Linked DNA regions of Homo sapiens. The protein of the gene in region 1 purifies or fractionates together with the protein of each later gene. This does not show direct contact. Each region holds a gene or a part of one and is shown on either strand. Other genes may lie near its edges.

The links.
Region 2: the proteins of TRHR (region 1) and ACP2 purify together in Homo sapiens (affinity purification with mass spectrometry; 3 studies listed by BioGRID and IntAct, with this or other methods). This does not show direct contact.

Annotation. Positions count from the first base shown.
Region 1 is NC_000008.11:109,119,497-109,122,066, reverse strand, and holds the end of TRHR (thyrotropin-releasing hormone receptor), read right to left. Parts: 3' UTR 502-2,570; downstream 1-501. UniProt on the Homo sapiens protein: Receptor for thyrotropin-releasing hormone (TRH). Upon ligand binding, this G-protein-coupled receptor triggers activation of the phosphatidylinositol (IP3)-calcium-protein kinase C (PKC) pathway.
Region 2 is NC_000011.10:47,242,116-47,245,944, forward strand, and holds part of ACP2 (lysosomal acid phosphatase isoform 1 precursor), read right to left. Parts: intron 3,720-3,829; coding exon 3,567-3,719; intron 3,458-3,566; coding exon 3,359-3,457; intron 3,308-3,358; exon of another isoform or gene 3,280-3,307; coding exon 3,190-3,279; intron 2,753-3,189; coding exon 2,620-2,752; intron 1,207-2,619; coding exon 1,124-1,206; intron 1,010-1,123; coding exon 903-1,009; intron 784-902; coding exon 608-783; intron 1-607.

The DNA.
Region 1 (2,570 bases):
TTACCTCAGGTATGATATCTAACCAAAGACCCTCAGCAATTAATGAAATTGGAAGTAACAAAAGAACACAGGGAATTTTTATTAAGGAGGGCTCTTAATAACATTACTTGATTTCACCAGCAAATTTTAAACTAGCTCTTTATTTCTCATTTGGTGGTATATTAAGTTTTGATTATTTGTGGAAATATTTTATGATTGAGTATAGTGTGATAAAGAATATTTTAAAAAGTTATATCTCTTCTGTGTAAATTCAAATATCTATTGGACATTATATAGGAACATTTAATTTTAAAATGGCATTTGCTTTAGAGTTAAAACACTATGAACTGAGTTCTTATGAATTTCCCATGTGGTCTAAAACTAACAGATTTTTGAGAAATAACTTTTTAAAAATTAAAGTGAAAGAATTCAGCCCATACATTAAATTTCCAAAGATAAGAAGAGCATCTTTGTATTCTGTGTATATCATGTTAAACTAATTGTATTTTTTAACACCTGATATAATCATTCTGCAAAATCCATAACTTTTTATTAATTAGGAATTAGGTCACAGGAATACTGGTCTAATCATCAGAGAAATTACAGCTGTAGTGAAATTGTGATGAAGATAATGTTGATTGACTACCTACCAGCATACCTGAGACATAGTCGATGCTCAATGATATTAGGTCCTTTCTGTAATGAAAAAATCTCGTATATTCCAATCCCCTTTTTCACCAATTTATGAACATGTGGGTATGTGTTTATAAACACACATGTGCTTGTGTGATTTGGGGTTGGGTCACTCTGGTGCTCTATTTATATGATGCCAAGATTAATATTTATACCAGAATGAAAAGTCAGTTAACATAGATTGCTTACTGTCATGCAGGTAGGGTTTTAGGGTATTTCCTGCAAATATTTGCTTGCATTCATTTACTGTTATAGTAACAGGATAAAAATGTCTTGCTGGAGTAGATAAGGCCAATTTTCAAAAAAAAAAAAGCGCACTCTAGAATGAGGTTCTGGATAGCATAGTCTCCATGAAACAGCACGTAAAAACAAGTTTCAGAAGAATGGTATATTCTTCATTAAGAAGATGGGGAGGCATAATTATCATTAGCGATTAGGTTCTAGAAAAGTCCATAAAATAGGGATATAGGCTGGAGAGGGAAAATGACAGCCTACGGGCATGTAAAGGTATGGGTACTTTTTTGATCTACTCATTAAAAATCAATGACTACTGAACCATCACCAAGGGCAATTTTTGCCCTCGGAGATTCTGGTTGGCCAAATCTCAATAGGTAAGAGATTCAGGTAGGAACTGACAAGTGTCCTGGACAGATTCATTCACAAGTCTCCAATAAACACTGGAATAGCAGATGTCAGTCATAAATATAAAGATGACATACTGATAATATGATGAAATCAGTTTTAACTCTGCTGAAAATAAAGCCAACAGAATTTTGCATTGCTTTTAGAATCTGTAAACAAAATATCACTAGCATTTGAGAAAAACAAAAAAAGAACCTACAAACAACAAGCAGATAGGAAGGAAAGACAATTGCAGTCAAGGTAAAATCCATAGACTACAATTCTCAGTGGGAGCTCTTTATCTGGAAGAGGGATACCAGGATTTTGGCTGACTTAGAATAACAACAAAGCTTTTAAGAATGTTTCAGACTTTTCAGCTAGATTTTGCTTGAATGATTTGCTTGACATGGCTGAGTAGTTTATAAACAAGAATGTTCAAAAAGATTTTATTGCTTAAAAGCGTCAGAGAAGAAGCAAAATCTAATTATAAATACTTGCTTTGTCTTGACTATACTTTTCAAATTTAATTGTATGTTAGTTTGTATCTTCACAGTTACTTAATCTGGGCTTTTGCCTTTTTCCACCCATCATGTGGGAGGCTGGAAGAGTTGATAAGAGTTGGATTTATCTTAAAATCTACATTTCTCCTTAATTAATAATTTCAGATATTTTGAGGTTTATTTTACATTAAAGTTGAGTGATGATTATCTACCTTCTAAGATATAAAAATCATCTCAGAATTTTATAAACATTATGGCAACTTTTAAAATACAGTTAACATGTATGTCTAAAATCTTATTTTTACTCAATAAATAAAATGTTTCTGTAATATTTTTCCCTTTAATTTCAGATATTCATGAACTAGCCCTGTACTATGTTAAAATGAATACTAAATGCAAACATTTAAAAATCTGCATGTTGTCAAATTATCGAATGTATAAATAAATTAGGGAAGTTGAAAAGTGACATTTGATAAGGTTACTATGAATAATGTAAATTGATGTCTAGATTTTATTGAAACTCTATAAGTCCAGAAAATATAGTGAATTTCTTAAGTTAAATGAAAAGGGCTAAACTTTAAGTTTCCATCATTTAGCTATTTCACAGATCTGCTCCATTTTTAGTGATATTAGTTTGTAAGAAGGAAAGTCTGAATCATCCTCATGGGTTAAAGTATCTAGGGCCAGAATTTGTTAGAGCATTGACAAAGACTGATCTGCTCTGTCTTCACATATGACTATTGGCCATGTTCTCCCTTTTGTTGATGACTGCACAGA
Region 2 (3,829 bases), on another chromosome or scaffold:
TTATGTAATGCTGCTGAGAGGTGAGAGAAGCTAAGAATTAGTCACTGGCTTTGGTAGGAGGTGACTGGTCACCAGACAAGTATGGCTTCAGGGTAGTGGAAGGTGACACAAGACTGTCTAATGTGAGTCTAAGAGAACAAGTGGTGAGGAAGCAGAGCCAGATTCTAGGCAGCTCTTTCAAGGATTCCATTCTGAGAGGGAAGAGGCTGGTGGCTGGGGAAGAGGTGGCTCTCAGAGGTCATGGATGGGCTTTTGGGAGGGAAGTGATCCAGTAGAGAAGCAGAGGCGTCAGAGCTCCTTGCAGAGATGAGGAGAGAACCCAAGTGCGGGTGGAGAGGCCACCCTAAGCGGTGGCTTCCCCCAGGAAGTAACCTGGTGGTGGGAGAACGAGCCAATTCTCTCTTGGCTCTTATTTTCTCGGTGATACAAGTGAGACATCACCCGAGGGTGAGAAGTGGGGAGAAGGTATAAAGCAGTCTGGGGTCGGGGAGGGAACTCCTAGCAAATGCAGTCAAATGGCTGGAAGTGCGACAGCTCTTGAGATGCGTGGATGTGAACTGCAGGCTGGTCTAGGGCATGACTAGCAAGGAGGCCGGTGACAGCTCACCTGTGTCTGCAGGACCGCTTGCCAGCTGGCACTCCTGCTGCCAATCCTTGGGCACGACGGGCTCTGTGAGGCGAAGGAAGTCCTGCAGTGGGCAGCGGTGAGGGCAGCCAGGCAGGCTGAGCGGCCAGGGGGCCTTGTCACTCTCGTTCCGAAAGTACATCTCCACTGAGAAATTCCTGAGGGTCGACAGGAGGCAACATGGGAGCTGCTCAGCCTGCCCATCATGGGGTCCTTGGGCTGCCCCGAGCCACCTCCCGAGGGCCCCCCTCCAGAGGACACTGCTAGCTCCACTCACCCAGAATCTTCCTGGTACAGTTCAAATATGTGGCAGGAGGCGTAGGGGGCTTGTTCACCATTGTAGACATCCAGTGCCATTTGCAGGGCAACCAGGGTAGTGTCGTGCTGCGGGGGAGAGGGGCTGCCCGTCAGCATTGTTCCCCACACCCGCAGGAACCGAACAGAGAAGAAATCCAGCTCCTTGCCTGACACAGCACGCTAGGGAGCGCAGGCACTCACCGCAGAGTAAACCAGCAGCTTGGGGAGCTGGGAGGTGGTCGCCATTAGGGTCAGGTTCTTCCTTATCTGAGCCAGCAGGACTCCTGAAGGAGAAAAGTCCCCGGTGTTGCTGGCTACAGCCACCTCTGCCTTCTAATTAGACCTATCTGTGCTCCTTTCACCCTCTGCCAGGCCTGGGCCTCATCACCTACACGGAGAACTCTTTAGTGTCATAGGGACCATGTAAGAACTCTGTGGCACCCCTCCTCTCTAAGAACTGTCAAATGTACAGAAGGAAGCAAGACAAAACAAGATATCTGCCTATATTTCAACACGGATGTAGAAACCTGCCTGTGTTTACAGAAGCACTTCAGTTTGAAACAAATGTAAACTTAAGATTGCTTCAGAGTACACAGCGGGTGGGTGCATGCCCGGGTAACTACCATATGCTCTGAAAAGTGAGATGTCAAAAAGGTGTGACAGCAGGCATGCCCTTAGGTGCTCAAATAAGGAAGCTGGCATGTGTGTTACTCTCAGCCTTCTCAAAATGGCCCCCAGTGGTTCTCTTGGGGCAGCTATTCATTTAGGAGAGGGAGGGTCTTCTGATGTGGGCGAAACTTAAGAACATGAATGGCAGGGCTGGGCGTGGTGGCTCATGTGTGTAATCCCAGCACTTTGGAAGGCTGAGGCGGGCAGATCACCAGAGGTCAGGAGTTTGAGACCAGCCTGGCCAACATAGTGAAACCCCATCTCTACTAAAAATATAAAAATTAGTTGGGCGTGGTGGCAGGCACTTGTAGTCCCAGCTACTTAGGAGGCTGAGGCGGGAGAATCGCTTGAACCTGGGAGGTGGAGGCTGCAATGAGCCGAGATCGTGCCACTCTACTATAGCCTGGGTGACAGAGCAAGACTCTGTCTCAAAATAAATAGGCTGGGTATGGCGGCTCATGCCTGTAATCCCAGCACTTTGGGAGGCCAAGGTGGGTGGATCACCTGAGGTCAGGAGTTCAAGACCAGCTTGGCCAACATGGTGAAACCCTGTTTCTACTAAAAATACAAAAATTAGCTGGGCATGGTGGCTGAGGTCAGGAGTTTGAGTCCAGCCTGGCGAACATGGTGAAACCCCGTTCCTACTAAAAATACAAAAGTTAGCCAGGCATGATGGCATGTGCCTGCAATCCCAGCTACTCAGAAGACTGAGGCAGGAGAATTGCTTGAACTCAGGAGGCAGAGGTTGTAGTGAGCCAAGATCGAGCCATTGCACTCCAGCCTGGGTGACAAGAGGGAAACTCCATCCCCCCGAAAAAAAATAACAATTTTTTTAAAAAGAATATGAATGGCAGAAAAGGAAGAGAGGTGGGGAAATTTGGTGACTAGCGGCATGAGGAGGGGGATTTGGTTTTGAAAGAGCAGGGAGTGTTTCAGTAGAGAGGGAAGTGTGTGAGAAGCCCCCACAGCAGATTTTTAACGCCTTAGGGTCCTGAGGAGTAGAGTGACACGCTGTCCTTGTCACTCACCCCCCTGAAGCCGGGCCTTCTCCGCCTGCTGGTAGATTCCGAAGAGGAAGCGGAAGCTGAAGTCCTTTAGCCGGCTGAGACGCTGCATGGTTTGGGGTGAGGCCCAGGGCGGCAGGCGCAGCCCGTGCGTTTGCTGTGTATCGCAGCAGGCAGGTTAGCGCCCCAGGCCTAGGCCAGCCTCTCCAGGGGGCAGCTCTCTTCCCTAGTGGGAAGGTGCCTGTGTGTGTGAGGGAGGGAGAGGGGAGAGAGGCAGAGGGGCTGGAACCAGTAGACATGGCAGGCGGTGTGGATGCTTCAGGGCACAGGAAAGGAAGCTCAGGCACAAAAAGTGAGACTCAGCAGAAAGGAGCTCTGGGTGGAGAGCAGCAGGGACTGCTGACAATTAATAAACCATTTCCCACTCTGAGGATCTCTGTCACCCATGAGGGAAGTTCCCGTGTTTCACAAGCACAGCCTCCCTGGACCTCCCCAGGGGCGTGACGGTATCAGGCACTGTGTTCTACCGTCCTGGTGACCTGGGCCTGCTGAGAGGGAAAAGAATGATCACAGTGGGCACCCTAGTGGGCTCACCTCACAGAAGAGTGTGTCATAGACATTCCAGACGGTCTCCAGTGTCAGGTCTGTAAGCCCTGTCTCGTTGGCCACCATGTCCAGAAATTGCTATGAAAAATGGATCAGGGTCTCAGTCCTGCTCTGGGGAAAAGACAGCGTGGTGAGCTGCACCTCTGCCCCCACTCACTGCATTCCGAGAACTCTCATTCTGATACTCTGGTGTCTGCCGGGTCTCGTTCTGCAGCTGCTCATAACGGGGACATGGGCCCAACGGGAACTTCAGCAGCTGTAGAGCGAAGCGGGGAAACAGGCAGCGGGAAAAGGAGCCTGGCATCAGCAGGCCTACGGCCAGAGCTGTCCCCTCACCACCCCAGGGAAGGGCTGGCCACTCTTACCCTGTCCTCAGTGATGGGCACAGTGTGCACAGGAATAGGCTGCCACGAGATGTTCGGGTTGAAGCGCTGCATCCCGTTGGGAGGGAAGAGTCCAGCCAGGTTGGCCTCAGCACTCATGAGAGTCCGGTCAAAGTCTGTGCTTCGCACATAAACCTGCAGCGATAGCAACACAAGTCGTGTGTGTGTGTGTGTGTGTGTGTGTGTTGGGGAAGTTTTGGTCACCCTGAAGTGGAGCCTTGTATGTATGTGTGTGTGTGTGGTGG